Regions from separate parts of the Homo sapiens genome. Here region 2 is linked to region 1. Evidence: fine-mapped expression QTL. A gene starts in region 1. The other region holds a variant in brackets. All regions are shown on one strand. Distances are between the middles of the regions.

Evidence for each region.
Region 2: its variant is fine-mapped to the expression of PRR5 in whole blood (TOPMed, PIP above 0.99).

The regions. Positions count from the first base shown.
Region 1 is chr22:44,697,962-44,706,637 of GRCh38, forward strand. It overlaps PRR5 (proline rich 5), which reads left to right and starts at 4,243. Exons shown (of 8, transcript NM_181333.4): 1 at 4,243-4,647. The coding sequence starts at 4,514. PRR5-ARHGAP8 (PRR5-ARHGAP8 readthrough) reads left to right here and starts at 4,243. Exons shown (of 15, transcript NM_181334.6): 1 at 4,243-4,647. The coding sequence starts at 4,514. RefSeq lists an enhancer at 1,328-1,868 and a silencer at 4,117-4,526.
Region 2 is chr22:44,723,637-44,732,312 of GRCh38, forward strand. PRR5 (proline rich 5) reads left to right here. Exons shown (of 8, transcript NM_181333.4): 3 at 1,608-1,656; 4 at 2,941-2,998; 5 at 8,094-8,185; 6 at 8,615-8,676. It overlaps PRR5-ARHGAP8 (PRR5-ARHGAP8 readthrough), which reads left to right. Exons shown (of 15, transcript NM_181334.6): 3 at 1,608-1,656; 4 at 2,941-2,998. Among named protein-coding and RNA genes, the nearest start is that of ARHGAP8, 25 kb to the right of the region's middle. RefSeq lists enhancers at 173-467, 1,049-1,550. The variant C/G (reference allele first, on the strand shown) is at 4,325.

The DNA of each region.
Region 1 (8,676 bases):
GGCCTGTGTCCCAGAGATCATGATGTCACTTGCAGTGCTGATGGACTAGAACTCAGAGTCCCGGGTTCATGAGCTGCCCTGACTTACTGGTCTGTTCCTGTCCCCTGGGTGTCCAGCCGGGGCTGAGCCAGGCTTAGGGATTGCAGGCCCTTCAGAAGGGTAGTTCTGAGGATATCAGGGTCCCCCTTGGTGACCAAGGGGATCCTCTACCAGCTGCCGACACCCCACTGGCCAGGGGGAGTTTGGAATGAGTTTGGGTCCTGGGGAGGAGAGGACGTGGTTGATGCCATCGGGCCTGGCACCTTCCTGGAGCAGGGGCCACTCTGGTGGCTTTGGGGATGTGTGAATGAGTCTGGAGCAGGGGTGGCTCTGGTGGCTTTGGGGTTGTGTGAATGAGTCTGGAGCAGAGGTGGCTCTGGTGGCTTTGGGGATGTGTGAATGAGTCTGGAGTGGGGGCCACTCTGGTGGCTTTGGGGATGTGTGACTGAGTCCCTTTGTCTCTCATTTCCTTAACAGAGGGACATTTCCCTTCCCTGGTCTCAGACACAAATGAGCCCTGCCCAGGGTACCCCGCCACAATACAATTGCTGGGTCCCCCAGCCCCCTCCTCAGACCCAGAAAGCCCCATAAGTGAGAGGAGGGCCCGGTGGGCACCTGGAGGCCTTGTGCCTGCTGGCAGGGGCAGTAGCCGGGTGGGAGCTGTCACGTGGGGCTCAGGCCCAGCAAGACTGTCACCTGATGCTTCAGGGCGGCCAGAATCCGGGTTTCTGTGTCAATCTCTCCGTTGTAAAATGTTGTAAGATGTTGGCCGCACGCAGTTTGGTTTATTTTCCTCCGACGCTGCAGGCCACACAGAGCACACTTAGGGGCTAGACTCCGCCCTTTGTCCCCCAGTTGCCCCCTGCTCTGAGGGTTTGTGACAGCTCTGTCCCCTTGTGGCCTCTGCCTGGGGTTTCTGGCCCCGGGGCAGCCCCGCAGCTGTGCCCTCTCTGCCTGTCACGGCCCAAACCCAGAGCACTAGCACCTTTGCTTGAGCCTCCACTGCCCTCCTGGCGCTGGGCTGTTGGGTGTAGACAGATTTTACACATCTGTGGCTGGGGCCAGGGAGAGGTTATAGCTAATTCCTTAACGCTGACTAGAGATGCCTTTTTTAAAGATCTCTTTAAAATTCCTCAGCCATCCCCACCTCCGGAATTTCTGGCTGGCCGCTTCTCCCAGATGCCTACAGCATTCCCAGCCCCCTGTTTCCCTCCTCCTGCCTCCCACCTCGGGCTGCCCATTTCTCTCTGATTTCTTATCCCAAGCAGTCAGGCCTCCCTCCCTCTCTGGAGCTGGCCCCTCCTGCCAGCCAGGCCCTGCCTGTGGTCAGCAAGCTTGGGACCAGGCTGTGCTGAGCCCACAAAGCCAGTCCTCTCCTGAGAGCCAGCCTCCGGCGTGGGAAACCATTTCATCCCATCCGGATCCCTGGCGGTTCTGCTTTGCTGCGTTTACACCAGTGGCCATGACGGAGATTCTCGCTCACATCTGTCCAGCCTGGGCACTTTTATGAGGCATTTTCACCAGTGGGGTCCAATGTAATCCCTTTATTCTTATGAGATAAATGTTCATCCATCCGTTAAACCAAATATCTATGAAGCACCCAGTCTGTGCTAGGCACGGGGACTGTAGCAGTGAACAAGTTGTTACGGTTCTTGCCCTCCTGGCTTATGGCATAGGATGGAAAAAAAGTCATCGGGTGACAACAGGACGCCCCCTGAGCCTAATTGAGAGTGAAGGCGGTCAGAGACAGGGGCAACTAACTTCTCTGAAAGACGTTCTAGGGCAGGGGAGGGACCCGCAGCTGGAGGGCAAGCAGGTCTCAAAGGCCCCTCCGAGGAGTCAAGGATCTGGGCTTTATCCTCTGTTTTCATTCTTTTCAGAGACAATTCAGTACATGCTTTAGTATTTTTATATGTTTTTTGTTGTTGTTTTTGTTTTTTTTTTTACAGCAGTAAGGTAGGAAATCCTTGTCTGGCCATGAAATTTGGTTTGGGATCTAAAAGATACAGTGTTCCCGTAAGTTTGAGAGCGTGGGCTAGGCACAGTAGTTCATGCCTGTAATCCTAACACTATGGGTGGCCAAAAGTGGGAGGACTCCTTGAGTCCAGAAGTTTGAGACCAGCCTGGGCAACATAGCAAGACCTTGTCTCTATTACAAAATTTTTTAAAAATTAGCCAGGGAGCCGGGCACAGTGGTTCATTCTTGTAATCCCAGCACTTTAGGAGGCCGAGGTGGGAGGATCACCTGAGGTCAGGAGTTTAAGACCAGCCTGGCCAACATGGTGAAACCCCATCTCTACTAATAAATAAAAAAATCAGCCAGGCGTGGTGGTAGGTGCCTATAATCTCAGCTACTCACTAGATTGAGGCAGGAGAATCACTTGAACCTGGGAGGCAGAGGTTAGCAGTGAGCCATGATTGCGCCATTGCACTCCACAGGCGACAAGAGCGAAACGCCATCACACACGCAAAAAATCAGCCAGGCATGGTGGCACATGCCTTGTAGTCCCAGCTATTCAGGAGGCTAACGTGGGAGGGTTGCTTGAACCCAGGAGGTAGAGGCTGCAGTGACCACAGTGGTGCCACTGCATTCAACCTGGGCCAAAAAGTGAGACTCTGTCTCAAAAAGAAAAGAAAACGTGTACAGCACTTGACAGTTAGTTTATAAAGCACCTGTTGCTGCCTGTGGGCCCCAAGCTGCCTGTGAGATGAACCGTTCCATCCCGCTTTACTGATGAGCAAGTTTGTCTGTTTATGTCTCTGTCTCCCAAAGACGATGGTATTTATGTCTGGAACACAGGAGGTACTCAGGAGACACTGGTTGATTTGCACTAAACAAAGACTCTTCATGAGGCTCTCTTACTTTTTATTTTATTTTATTATGATGATGATGATTTTTGAGACGGAGTTTTGCTGTTGTTGCCCAGGCTGGAGTGCAGTGGCGAGATCTCAGCTCTCTGCAACCTCTGCCTCCCAGGTTCAAGCGATTCTCCTGTCTCAGCCTCCTGAGTAGCTGGGATTACGGGCATGCACCACCACGCCCAGCTAATTTTGTATTTTTAATAGAGATGGGGTTTCTCCATGTTGGCCGGGCTGGTCTTGAACTCCTGACCTCAGGTGATCCTCCCACCTCGGCCTCCCAAAGTGCTGGGATTACAGGCATGAGCCATCACCTCTCTCTTACATTTTATATGGGGCCCTCCCAGCTCCTGGAGCTGTGGCTGTCACCCCCCATCTGATGGAGGGGTCAGGTGAGCCTTGTGGGAATCCCAGAAGCTGGGGACTGGGAAGGGCCCTGTTCAAGGGGCTGGACGCTCCCTGTGGTGAAGCCCAACTCTACCATTTGTTGATTGCACAATGTTGGCACAATGTTGGGCAAGTTATTTCACTCTGTGAGCCTCAATGTCCTCAACTGGAAAATGGGGAGAAGAATAATCTCTACCTCACGGAAGTAGTTCATGTTAGTTCATGTGAAATCAGACATCTAAAAGTGCTCTGCGAAGCAGGCAGGAAGCACCGGCTGTGCCCTGCCTTCACTGGGATCACTCTGCCCCCACCACAGGGACTTGGGAAACTGCTTGGTTTTACCATCCAAGAGACCTGGGGGTGGGAGATAAGGAGCAAACCCTCTACTTCTTCAAGCCCTCACTCCAGCAAATCCTCCAGGCAGCCAGGCAATGCTGAAGTCCCTGTCCAAGGGGGTCTAGGCTGAGCCCGGGTGGAGTGGGTTCTTGGGCCAAGGTGCCTGGAGGGGACTGAAGGCCTCTACCCAAAGTCCTCATGAGAACTGGGTGGGGGAGCCTGTGTTCAGGTGAGGGGTACGGAGGCACCTCTGTGGCACAGCCTTTGCGAGGAGGGCTGTGGAGGGAGACCTCCGGGGCCGGGGTCGAAGGACATCGTGTGGGCGCGACCGCAGTGCTGGGCGGGGGGCGGGCGCTTGGGCTTGGGCCCTGCGTCCTGTGCGTGTTGGTTTCCTGTGGGCACGTGGGGCCCTCGGAAGAGGGGAGGAGGGTGAGCACGTCCTCAGAGGGCAGACCCAGCGAGGCGTCGTGGCAGCTGCGGCCGCGGAGACGCCGGCTCCGCCTCTTGCACACGCCCCCTCGCCTGAGGCCCCGCCCCGCCCGCGATGCCCCCGCCCCCTTCCCCGCCCCGCCCCCCGGGGCGCCGAGACCCGCCCCTGGGCCCGCCCCCGGGTCCGCCCCCGGCCTCCGTTTGCGCCGGGTCTGTGCTGGCCGCGCGCCTGGCGCTCCACGCTGAGCCTCTCCGTGCAATGATTAACCCGGCGGGGCGGCCGGCGCGGGACCCGAGACGGAGGCGCGGGGCCGGGGCGGGACCCCGCAGGACCGCTCGGCTTCCTGCTCTCGCCGGAGTTTCCGCGTAGAGGGCGCATCGCCGGCCCGGGGCCCTTGGTGCGGCGTGGCGCAGGGCGCGGCGTGGGGCGCGCGTGGGCGCGGCGCAGGCGGCCCGGGTCACCATGAGGACTCTCCGCAGGTTGAAGTTCATGAGTTCGCCCAGCCTCAGTGACCTGGGCAAGAGAGAGCCGGCCGCCGCCGCGGACGAGCGGGGCACGCAGCAGCGCCGGGCCTGCGCCAACGCCACCTGGAACAGGTAAGGCCGCGCCCTCCCGGCCACCCGGAGGCCCTGGAGCCGGGGGAGGGGACCCCTGAGCCGTCCGCGGGCTAGGGGCCGCCCCGAGCCAGGAACGCTGCCGAAGGCGGCGCGGCGCTTCACAGTTTGCAAAGAACTTGCCCCGCCGGAGTGGTGCGGGCCTGGAGGAAAGTTCAGTGCAGCGTGGTTCCAGAACCCAGGGAAGGGAGCGAGGCCCGCCAGCGCCCGGGGCTGGCCCAGAAGCGCCCGGCGGGTGGGCGGCGGGGTGGGCCGGGAAGCCGCGTGCCCGCCTCCTACCCGGGGTCTTTCCACGTCTCCACTGCGGTGCTCGTGACAACCTGGGAGGCTAACGGAGCAGGAAGTATTTTTCCCATTTTGCGGCTGAGCACGGGAGCCTCGGGGCTCAGTGGGTGGGTCGCGCAGGCTTCCTGTGTCTCTTTAAGCTCCCTTCGGCTTTCCCTTGAGAGGCCCCCTGTCCTCCAGCTGTCAGCAGGGGGTGCGGCAGCTGCGAGGCATTCTTTAGAGGACTCTCCTCCAGGGGTCATTCCCAGACAAGCAGGGGCCTGGGAAGCCCCTTCTCCCAGCTTTGTTTGAGGAGCAAGTCCGGGATCTGGAAAAGAGACGGTTTATTTAGTGGAACTCCCCAGCGTCTCTGCTCCCTAGGAAAATGAGAGGCAGGAGAAAGTGAGGCAGGCTGTTCGCGGGAGGCAGTGGACACTGTTCGGGGGAGGCTGTGGACACTGTTCGGGGGAGGCTGTGGACGTTGCCCCTCTCGCGCCCACACCTGGCAGTAAAATCTTGCCAGATGCTCCACCGGCTGTGGTCTTGGCCACCGGGAACCCGGCTGTCACTTGGACACACGTTATTTTCAGTTCATTGAATGCATTGTGAGCGTCATGGTGGGCTCAGGGCTGCCAGCGAGACCCTCTTCAAACGTGGTCTCTTCTGTCTCTGAGTTGCAAACTGCTAGAGGGCTGTCACATGCCTGCCTCCGTTTCCCTCTCCGTCAGTGGGTATTCGCATTCCTCCCTGTGGGGAGGGCTGGTGTGGGAACAGTGAAGGAAGGACTCCTGTTGGGAAATCTCCCTGACCCAACGACTGCACAGTGTCTTAAGAGCTGTGTTCTCCACCAGGCACGGCGGCTCACACCTGTAATCCTAGCACTTTGGGAGGCCAAGATGGGAGGATTACTTGAGCCAGGGAAGTCGAGGCTGCCATGAGCCATGATGCCACCACTGCACTCCAGCCTCGGTGACAGAGCAAGACCCTATCTCAAAAAAAAAGAAGAGCAGTGTTCTCCTCCAGTATTGAGATGAAAGCCATCTCTCTGTCCTTGAATCTCTGCCGTGATTTAGAGGAAAGAGTTAAATAGACTTATTTCAAATCCCAACTCTGCCTCTTCCCTACTCTGTGGTCTTGAGCAAGTCAGGTCCTCAATTTCCTTATCCATAAAACGGGCAGATAACAGTGCCCACCTCATGGGGCTGTTGTAGGGATGAAATTTGAACATGCAAAATAAAGCCCTCAACACAGTGCTTAGCACATAGTAAGTCCTCTGTACCTCACAGCTCAACCCCAGACTCACGCAGTGGACCAGTGTCGGGGTGTCCCTGTAGGGATGGCATTTGGAGGGCTCCACAGGAATCAGTCAGTTCCTGAGCACCCACTGACAGCCACTTGGTGAGCTCCCTCCCACCCCCGAGGTGGGGCGTCCTGCTGCGGGTCCCCAGACAGGTGGGGGCACTGGCTGGTTGCTGGCTTAGACACTGCCCTCACCCAACCTTGGGTGACCCTGGAGTGGGCTCTGAGTCTCAAGTGTCTTCTCAGAGTTCAGGGAGGCCTCAGGGGGACTCTGCCTGAGCAACCCCCGCCCCACCAGATTTCACTCAGCAGCCTGGCAGATTGCAGAGAAATGCCAGCCCCTCCCCGCGGCACCTGCAGGGCTCCAGGTCTCCCAGCCCTTAGGCCTACATCAGCTCCCACCACCCCAGGCAGCAGGGGCACGGCCATTTCCTGCACTCCTCTTATGTGCCAGGCCCCAGGCCAGCCCCGTTCACTGCCCTTAACTGACTTTGCCACTCTCCTAGCCCAGCGAGGTATTACCAGCACCCCCCACCGAGAGATGCAGAAGGGCAGAGAGAGCACCCAGGAGACATGCCCAGCTCATCCATCACCTGCACAGGATGCAGCAGAGCCTGCGCCCCAGCTCTCCTCCCCAGCAGATGTGGGAGATGGAGCCAAGAGAAGGCAAACTGGCTTCACCAGCCAAGTCCCTGAGTGGAAACTGCAGGGAGCAGGGCACCCCTTCTGGTCCCTGTCTGCATGCTCCTGCTCCTAGCGGTGCTCCCTGCCAGGGCCCCCTAGGACAACAGATCTGTGCAGGGTCGGGGACAGGCGTGTCATTCTGCAGGGCCTGGCCGTGTACTCCTCATTATGAGTCCAAGACACACCCCCTTTTATCTGTGTGACTGTATTAGCTTCCCAGAGCTGCTGTAACAAAGACCACAAACTCGGTGGCCTAAAACAGCAGAAATTTGTTCCCTCACAGTTCTGGAGCCAGAAGCTTGAAGTCCAGGTGTCGCTCCCACCAGAGGCTCTAGGGGAGGAGCTTCTTGAAGCTTCTGGTGGCTCTTTGGCTTGTGGCTGCATCACTCCAATATGTACCTCCCCATGGCTTTCATTTCCACGTCCAAATCTCCCTCTCCTTTCTCTCTCTCTATTTTTTTTCCTTTCTTGAGACGGAGTTTCACTCTTGTCCAGGCTGGAGTGCAATGGTGTGATCTCAGCTCACTGCAGCTTCTGCCTCCTGGGTTCAAGCAATTCTCCTTCCTCAGCCTCTGGAGTAGCTGGGATTACAGGCGCCCACCACCACGCCCGGCTAATTTTTTGTACTTTTAGTAGAGACGGGGTTTTGCCATGTTGGTCAGGCTAGTCTCTAACTCCTGACCTCAGGTGATCTGCCCACCTCGGCCTCCCAAAGTGCTGGGATTACAGGTGTGAGCCACCGTGCCCAGCCTCTTTTTTGTTTTCTTTTGAGACGGAATCTTGCTCTGTCACCCAGGCTGGAGTGCACTGGTGCAATCTCAGCTCACTGCAACCTCCACCTCCCGGGTTCAAGTGATTCTCCTGTCGCAGCCTCCCTAATAGCTGGGATTACAGGCGTGCACCACCATGCCCAGCTAATTTTTGTTTTTGTTTTTGAGGTGGAGTCTCACTCTGTCACCCAGGCTGGAGTGCAGTGGTGCAATCTCAGCTCATTGCATTCTCCGCCCCCACAGGTTCAAGCAATTCTCCTGCTTCAGCCTCCCAAGTAGCTGGGATTGTAGGCGCCCACTACCATGCCACCATGCCCAGCTAATTTTTGTATTTTTAGTAGAGACAGGGTTTCACCGTGTTGGCCAGGCTACTCTCAAACTCCTGACCTCTGGTGATCCGCCTGCCTCAGCCTCCGGAAGTGCTGGGATTACAGGCATGAGCCACCACACCAGGCTCCCTCCCCTTTCTCTTGTAAAAACACTAGTTATTGGATTTAGGGCCCATCCTTAGTTAAGGATCATCTCCAGGTCCTTAATTAAATACCGCTGCAAAGACCCTATTTCCATCAAGTGTAAGGCTTGCTCTGTCATGAGAACTGAGTCATTGATTGATTGATTGATTCATTCATTCATTCGTTTATTCATTCATTCATTGACTGTGCCAGCACTGGGCTGCTCAGGGCATAGATTCAGCAGAGAACAGCCTCCTGGAGCTTAGAGTTCCCAGAGGGAGGCATTGGTAAATAAACAAGGAGGTAAGTAAATGCAGGTGGGCTTAGTGCTGGGAGGAAAGCAAACCAGGGGCCCTGGAGTGCTGAGCATTTCGCTGGGGTCTGCCTTCCATTCTTTCCTCCATGGATGTTGATTCTGTAGGTGTGCAGGAAATGTTTGGTTTTTCTCTTTTGAGAGAGGGTCTTGCTCTGTCACCCGGGCTGGAGTACAGTGGCACAATCATGGCTCAGGCAGCCTTGACTTCCCAGGCTCCAGCGATCCT
Region 2 (8,676 bases), 26 kb after region 1:
TTGAACCTGGGAGGTGGAGGTTGCAGTGAGCCAAGATCGCACCACTGCACTCCAGCCTGGGTGACAGAGTGAGATTCCATCTCCAAAAATAAAAATAAAAAATAAAACAGTGGGAACATAGTACTTTGAGCAGTGTTTGCCCGTTCAGAACATGATCATTTTTCATTGATGTGCTGCACTTCCATCTGTGTTGGCCAGTTGCTTTTTCTTGTATCCATTTTTACAGAATGCCACATGGGTTTCACACTGGCAGACAAGGAGGCAACACAGGTCACAATTTGCTGTCTGTGCATGAACTGCTGACAGATACTTAGGGACCAATCAGAGACTGACTTTGAAAGAAGTGTTGCAATTGGTCAGTGATCATTGTACACATCTGTTATCTACATTTTGATTTGTGGACTGGAGAGCGGGCAGCAGAGCTTGTACTTAACCAGGATAACTGAAACTTGTATGTATCAGAACCATGCAAAGAGAGGACTGCCTATAATTCAGGACTGATTAGAAAGTTTTCCTAGGCCGGGTGTGGTGGCTCATACCTGTAATCCCAACACTTTGGGAGGCCAAGGCGGGTGGATCACTTGAGGTCAGGAGTTCGAGACCAGCCTGGCCAACATGGTGAAACCCCGTCTCTACTAAAAATACAAAAATTAACTCGGCCTGGTGGCGCATGCCTGTAGTCCCAGCTACTCAGGAGGCTGAGGCAGGAGAATCGCTTGAACCCGGGTTCACCGCAACCTCTAGGTTGAGATTGTGCCACTGTACTCCAGCCTGGGTGACAAAGCAAAACTTCGTCTCAAAAAGAAAAAAAAAAAGTTTTCCTAAAGGGAATAGCAACCTAAAAAGTAAGATTTCTGATGTATTTGGTTCAGAAGACTGTTGGGAGGTCATATCTGGGGCCTCAGCGCTGACAGTGCCTGTGTACTTTCAGCCTGGCTGGTGTGGAATGTGGTGCTCCCATTCTCTCAGGCCCTGGAGGTATGTAGGGAGGGAAGGAGGAATTGTCAGTGTTGAGTGCCAAGGTGGAGGTTCAGATCTCAGCTCTGGCGTGTCCCATGTGGACCTGGTCTGGTGTCTTGACCTCTGCGAGCCTCTCTTGCCTCCCCTGTAATAAAAGGGGAACCCCGGTGAATGCCTGCGGCTGGGTTGGTGAAGACTGAATGAGCTTCTCTGGAATAAAGAGTAAACACTTGGGAAGAAGCTCTGCAGGCGGAGAGAGGAGGAGCCCGTGGCATCCGGGATTTGGACAGGTGGAAGGCAGGAGCAAACCAAGTGTTGCAGGCCCAGCCCTGCCAGGTGTCTCTCCAGAAGGTGTGAGACGCAGAGGCCACTGTCTTCCCTCTGAGGACCCCTTGGCTTCCTCTGCTATGACATGAGTGCAGGGATCTAGTTGATGAGCTGCCACTGCGGACCATGGAGGCCCCGGTTGTGTGGCCGACCCAGCCCCTGCAGGTCTGGACAGGTGGGACCTGTCCACTACCCATGTTTTTGGGCTGGCTGAGCATGCTGATCTCCCCCTGCCCAGGAGGCCCCACCCCAGTCCGTGGGTCCCCCATGCCAGTGCCGTGTGGTCTGGGACTCACTCTTGTCTCACCTCCCACCCACAGGCAGCTGTTGAAGACAGAGCTGGGGTCCTTCTTCACGGAGTACCTGCAGGTAGGTGGGTCTTGCTCCAGCCAGGCTGGGCCTGCCTCATGAGCCAGCCAGAAAGCACAGGGGCTCACCTGCCCCCGGGGGTGTGGAGCGCCGGCTCCCCCACTGTCTGCCTGCAGTTCCAAGGACCTGCCTCGTTCCTTATCTAGCCACGTGGAATGTTGTGGAGGTTAAATGATAAGATGAGGTGAATTCTTTTTTGAGATAGTCTCACTCTGTCATCCAGGCTGGAGTGCAATGGCGTGATCCCAGCTCACCGCAACCTCCACCTCCTGGCTTCAAGTGATTCTCACACCTTAGCCTCCTGATTAGCTGGGATTACAGGTGCCCACCATCACGCCTGGCTAATTTTTGTTTTTTGTCTTTTGTTTTGTTGTTGTTGTTGTTGTTGTTGAGATGGAGTCTTGCTCTGTTGTCCAGGCTGGAGTGCAGTGGCGCGATCTCAGCTCACTGCAACCTCTGCCTCCCGGGTTCAAGCGATTCCCCTGTTTCAGCCTCCCCAGGAGCTGGGATTACAGGTACCCACCATCTTGCCCAGCTAATTTTTGTATTTTTGTAGAGACAGGATTTCACCATGTTGGCCAGGCTGGTCTCAAACTCCTGACCTCGAGGTGATCTGCCCGCCTCAGCCTCCCAAAGTGCTGGGATTACAGGCGTGAGCCACCGCGCCCGACCAATTCTGTACATTTCATATTGGTGGCATAACACGGCCTGCGGACTTTTGTCTGGACTCTTTCTCTTAGCATCAGGTTCTTTCTCATTGGAGCACAAGCCAGTGCTTCATTTCTTTGTGTGGAGATGGGCTGCATTTTGTGGTCCATGCTTTCATTGGCGGGTGCTTGGGTTGCTGAGACCACACAGCGTGGTTCTTGGCCGAGCCACCCCAGGCAGTGCGTCCAGGGTCCCTGAGGTAGGATGGCAGCTGACGGGCCCGGCCTTTGGTAATCAGAGTCACCTCTTGATGCAAAGTCCTTTCTTCACTGTGGGACATGCCAGGCTTCTGCCTGCCCAGCTGAGCCCAGTGCAAGGAGCTCTAGGCCCTGCCCACCTCTCGGGATGTCCGTGTGACCACCTCCTGTCTCGTGACAACCCGGGGTTGGGTCAGTTACCCTCCTGGATGAACTGATGCTCAGGCCCTGCAGCAGGTGGACTGTGGGACCTCAGTGAGTCTCCTCCCCCTTTAAGCCTTGGCTGCTCACTGGTGGATGGACTCTCGGGGGCCCTGCTGGCCAGGACACCCCCGGGCATCCACAAGGGCGGTGACAGCCCCTCTGTGTTTACCTTCAGAACCAGCTGCTGACAAAAGGCATGGTGATCCTTCGGGACAAGATTCGCTTCTATGAGGGTGAGTGTGGGCCCCTTGGCGGCCACTCTGGGCCATGCTGGGTCCTGGCTGGCTGCTGGACTGCTGGGCCTCGTGCTGGGGGCCTCTGGGTGCAAGGTGTGGCTCTCTGGTCCGGAGGGCTTGGAAGGAACACGTATAGCCTTAGGGCAGCAGGGCCGAGATCCTTACCCAGAGGGAACCCTGGGAGAGGGTCTGCCCCCCGAACTTGCTGGAGCCCAGGAGGGCTATGAGACATCGGGGAAAAGCCCCCTGCTTCCCCTCCCTGCCCACGGGACTTTCTGGCCCTAGTGAGCTCTGTCCCCGCAGCCTGGGAGAGCCCCTGTCCTGGTCTTTGGGGGTCAGAGGAGAAGTCGGTTAGGGCTGAGGTCACCGATACTCACAGAGGAGGGGACAGGGTGGGGGACTCAGCTGAATTTTCTCTGTCGAGGCTCACAGCCACCCACTGGGACCTTCAGGTTATTGTTCCTGAGTGGGAGAGTACAGTGATGATAAGTGATTTGCCCAAGGCTACAGTGCACATCAGGGGTGGGGGCGGGACTCAAACCCAGGTCTGCCTGACTTTAGGGCACACACCCTTTGCCCTTCTCACGGCCCGGAGGTCCCCGCTGGCCTCACTGTGCAGGTTGGGCTTCCCGTGGCCGAGAGCCTCGGGCAGCAGCAGCAGCGTGCGCATCCTTGCAGGAGCGAGCTGCCCTGGGAGCGGGGTCAGGTGAGGGGGTCCACTCAGTTCCCACGGATGCTGCTTTGCTCGGGCTGTGCTGGGATCGGGCCTGCGCTGTACCCGTGTGTTGAGCACCTGTGCACTAGGCACCGGGTGTGTGCGTCCCTCCGTGCTGGACTGCCCCGAGTGTTTCACATCTACTAACTCATTTGATTTCCACAACCCTGTGAAGAAGCCACCGTTGTTAGCACTGAATGAATGGGGAAAGTGAGGCACGGTGTCCTGCCCAGGCCACACAGCTGCACCGTGGCAAGGCCAGGGTGCCAAGCAGGCCACCGGGTCCCGAACCCATACTCTTCACTCTGCTGCCCCAGGCTCCTCCTCCAGGTCTCCCTCTGACCCTGGGAAAAAGAGCTACTAGCCCACTCCACAGAGAAGGACACAGGCCCGGAGGCCTGGCATGTTCCAGGGGACCTTGGAGCTGCGTGTCATGGTCCTTCCTCACGTCCACTGAACATGTTGGGTGGGGCCAGCCAAGACAGGAACACAAAGAGAGGCCATGAAAACCATCAGACCGTCGGGGAGACATGGGGGTTCTGGGAAGGCTTCCTGGAGGAGGCAACATCTAGACTGGCAGGACAGAGCTGTGAGCATTTGGCACCTGA[C/G]GAAGATGGCCACCCACGCCCCTCGCTTGATGCGGCACATTCTGGCGGTGCCTGTACCTCCCACCAGATCTGGCCTAGGGGAGCCGGGGCTCTCGGAGAAGGGAGTTTTGTGTGGCTTGAAAGGAGCTCTGCGTGGGACAGCCAGGTCTGCCAGGCCTCCCAGCAGGGGTGCCTGCCCAGCAGAAGGGGCAGAGGACAGCCCTGGGAGGCCCAGCATCCTCTTCTGCCTCGCCAGCCCTTCCTGGCCTCCCCAGGTCTCAGGGACAGGCACTGGGCTCTACGCTGGGAGTCTGAGGCCCTGGCCTCCAGTTCCCATGTAGCTGCAGACACAGGGTTTCCTCTCCAGCCTCAGCACCCCTGTCTTAGCAATGTGGGGTTGAACAGGCTCTGTCCACTTGAGTGTTCTCTACATGTCAGGCCCAGGTGACCTCTGGGAGCCCAGAGATGGAGGAGAACCTGGCCCTGCCCTTCAGGGACTCACAGCCCAATTGGGGACACAGACACGGACCCGAGGGTGACAGTTGAGTGTGATTAATGTCATTGTGAAGGAGTGTCCTGGGGAAGAAAGGGTTCATTCCACCTTGGCAGTCAGAGAGGGCTGCATGGAGGCAGTGGCCCTTGAGTAGGGCCTCAAAGTGTGGTCTGTTCAGGGGAACTTGTGGTCCCTTTTGGCCCCATGCAGTGGGGACATAGCCACCTCCACATCCTGATGGGCGGCCTCAGGGGCCTCCCCCTTCCTGCTCCCTACCCCTGCTTGGGTTCCACTGGGAGCTCTTCACTTTGAGCCTGCTCCTTGCAGCTGTCCCTACAGAGCCTCTACCAGAGGTGGGTGATGGCCCCCTGTGGGGAAGCCCCAGGACCTTGCCCCCTGCCCCTTCTCAGCCTCCAGGGAGGCCTTGGACTTCAGCCCCTGGGCAGAGCCGGTCCTGGAAGCGGAGAGCCTGGAGGAGTGGCCTTGAGGTGGAGGGCTGCCTCCCTAGGAAGGGGAGGAAGACTGGACCGCGGCCGGGGTTGTAGTTTGATGGCCTGTGTGTGGCTTAAGGGAATCGGCTCCAGCTGCAGCCAAGCAACTCCTTGGAAGCCAGAAACTTGGGAACTCTGGGCGGGAGCTCCTGGTCCTCTGCTGGGCCCTGGGATCTGCCGTCGCTCATCCACCAGGGAATCCAAACCCGGTATGGGTCACGTGACCCAGCTGTGCTGCCTTACACGCTTGCCTCCATGCCTGTGCCTCGGCCGTCCCCGCGCCAGACACCCTTGACCTGGTCCACCCAGCGCGTGGCTTTTGTCACTGCCCTGCGCTCCTCACTGTTCCTGAGTCTCCCGACGGGCTGAAACAGGGTTGTTGGTTTGCAGGGCCTGCACAGGGCCCTCAGCACTCGGATAAAGAAAGGAAAGACGGACACCAGCCTGCGCCCACAGCGAGAACCCCAGAGTGGGAGCCAGCACGGAGCCAAGGCTACTGCGGGGCCGCTCGCCTGCATCAGCCCCTGCTACTGCCAGGCTGGAGCCAAGGTACGGCGCGCACACACCCGGCCCCGTCCTGCCGGCAGCAAACGCCCAGTGCTGTTTCATCTCAGCTTTCGACCTGCCCACGTGGGGACGTGTATCACGCCCCTTTCATAGAGGATGCCACTGAGTCCGCCTGGAGGAACTTCCTGGGGTCGCCCCATACCTGCCTCCGACTAACCCTACTGCCCCACAGAGGGGCCCCCACAGGACAGGCCCCGGCAGAGAGCCCCAACAGCCGCGAGGCTGCCCTTCCTGGCCTCTCGTCACCGTGTGGCTCCAGCTGGGGCCTGGATTCTGTTTTACAACATCTGCTTTCCGCAGCATTTCCGCCCCGTGGGCTGGAGAACAGCCTGCGCTGAGCAGAACGCAGGCCTGGCCGGTGCCCAGAGCCACCCCCCGGCCAGCCCGGGAACTGAGCTGCCTTTCTTCCTGCCGCGGCGGAGGGGGACTGAAGGGACTTTGTGTGTGGGCACAGTTCGGCGGGGCGGTGAGCATCCATCCGTCCGGGGCATTCCTGCTGGCCCCCATCACCCTCAGAGCCAGGTTTGGGCTACCCGGGTGGGCAGAGGGCTGGCCACTGGGCTGGGAGCCAAAGATGGGACCCAGTCCAGCTCGGCCCCAGCCCCCAGGGCTGCCCCTGGCGGGGTCCCACTCCTAGTGCCCTCGAACCTACATGAAGCTGGGGGCTTCCGGGAGTGGGGGCAGGGCCCAGAGAGTGAGAAAAAGGCAAAGGTCCCTGTTCAGCCTCCGCATTCCCATGGAAACCTCAAAGCAGTTCTGGCCGGGGGCGCAGCCTGAGAGACAGCCGGCAACGCTTCCCTCTTCACTCAGAGGCGCCCACACCAAGATCTCTCTCGCCAGTTGTTCGTCTGGCTTCCAGGGGACAGCAGAGGCCTTGGGGACACGTCCTTGGACTGTGCATCCCTGGACCCAGCAGCCCTCATCCCAGCTCCGCTCAGTCCAGGCAGAAAGGCCAAGGGTTCTTCACGTTGCCTCTCCCACTGGAACCCAGAGCCAGCTTGGGCAGCTGTCCCCGTCCCACAAGGGTCACTCACCTGGTGCATGGCACCGTTCCTCTCAAGGCCAGCAGAAATCCTACAGAGCTGGTCCCGATGTCTGCTACCTACGTATCTGTTTCAGAGACTCACCTGTCAAGATGTGTCCCCATACCACTACGTCTGGCAAGCCCAGCTCCTATAGCCAGCTTGGATGCTCTTCCTCCAGGAAGCCCTCCCTGCCTGACCCTCTGCACCCTCTTCTTCCTTCGACGTGGTGCTGCTATTGGAAGGGGTCTCCGTGGATCCCCAGACCTGACCACAGGCAGAGCTGGCCTGGCCCTGGGTCCTCTGGGCCACTGACTGTGGTGCACCCTTTCCTCGGAGGCTCAGCCTCTGTCTGCTTGGTGGGGGGTCGATCACCCCTGGCTACTGCCCTTATGATCCTGCTCAGTGTCCCACTTCCCTGTCATGTGATGGATGGGCAGCTGTTTGGGGCTCAGCTGGGTCCCCAGTGCCCAGCATCAGCGCCAGCACACAGTAGGTGTTCTGTGTTTGTTGGAGGGGCAGATAGTGTGGGGGAAGGAGGGAGGAGGTCGGTGGGTAGAAGAAATCAACTGCTTAGCCGGGTTGTTAGGAGGATCTGATGAGACTAGGATGTGAGTTGAAACTGCTGTGCCAGGCACACCTGTGTGGGTCTCACTTGTGCCAGGCATACCTGCGTGGGTCTCACCTGTGTAGGTCTCACCTGTGCCAGGTGTACCTGTGTGGGTCTTACCTGTGCAGGTCTCCTGATGCAGGTCTCACCTGTGCCGAGTGTACCTACCTGTGCGGGTCTCACCTGTGTCAGGCGTACGTGTAGGGGTCTCACCTGTGAACGTCTCACCTGTGCCAGGTGTATACCTGTGTGGCTCTCACTTGTGTGGGTCTGGTATGTGACAAAGGCCTGGGAATTGGCAGCTGTCATCTGCCAGGAGCAGACCCTGAGCCAAGTTCCCTGTGCCTTAGGCTCATTTCATGCCCTCAGCTCTGGGAGGCCAATCCCTTTACTGCCACATTTTATAAATGGAAGACTGAGGTTAAGCAGTGGGCCCAGGGCCATAGAACAGCTGAGCTGTGGAGCTGGACATCGACCTTGGGCAGGTGCTGCCAGGGGCCTGAGCCCAGGCCCTCCACTCCCGCATCCTCTGATGACCCATCCTGGGTGAGTGGAGGCATCTGCCCGCGCCAGTCAGGCCCAGTGGTGATGGCCCCCATGCCCACAGGACAGAAGCTGCTGGACTCACTGGCAGAGACCTGGGACTTCTTCTTCAGTGACGTGCTGCCCATGCTGCAGGCCATCTTCTACCCGGTGCAGGTGGGCAGCCCAGCCCTGGGGAGGGAAGCCCAGTGCCCCTGCTGTGCCCACCCTGGCCTCACTCTACAGAGGGGGGCCGCCAGGCTTGGGGACACACACACCTGCTCTGCTCTGTGCTGCTCTCCTTGGGCTACCTGAGTTGCTCAGAGCCTGTTTCCACCCCTTCAAGCTGCAGATATGGACGCCTCCCTCCCTGTGAATCCCCCAGCAGCGAGGCACAGCGTAGGGGCTCTGTGACAGTAACCCTTTCACTGCCAGAGGAAACTGAAGGGGCCCTCTATCCTTGGGACGGGGTCATCTGAGGAGAACGGGGTGGAGGGGCCTGAGGGTCGGCAGGTCTCTTCCCCCTGTGGGGTCCCAGGACCGGGAGAGGGGAGATGAGGACGCATGTGACCACAGCCGGTGGGGTGGGGTGCCTTCCGTCCACAGGGCAAGGAGCCATCGGTGCGCCAGCTGGCCCTGCTGCACTTCCGGAATGCCATCACCCTCAG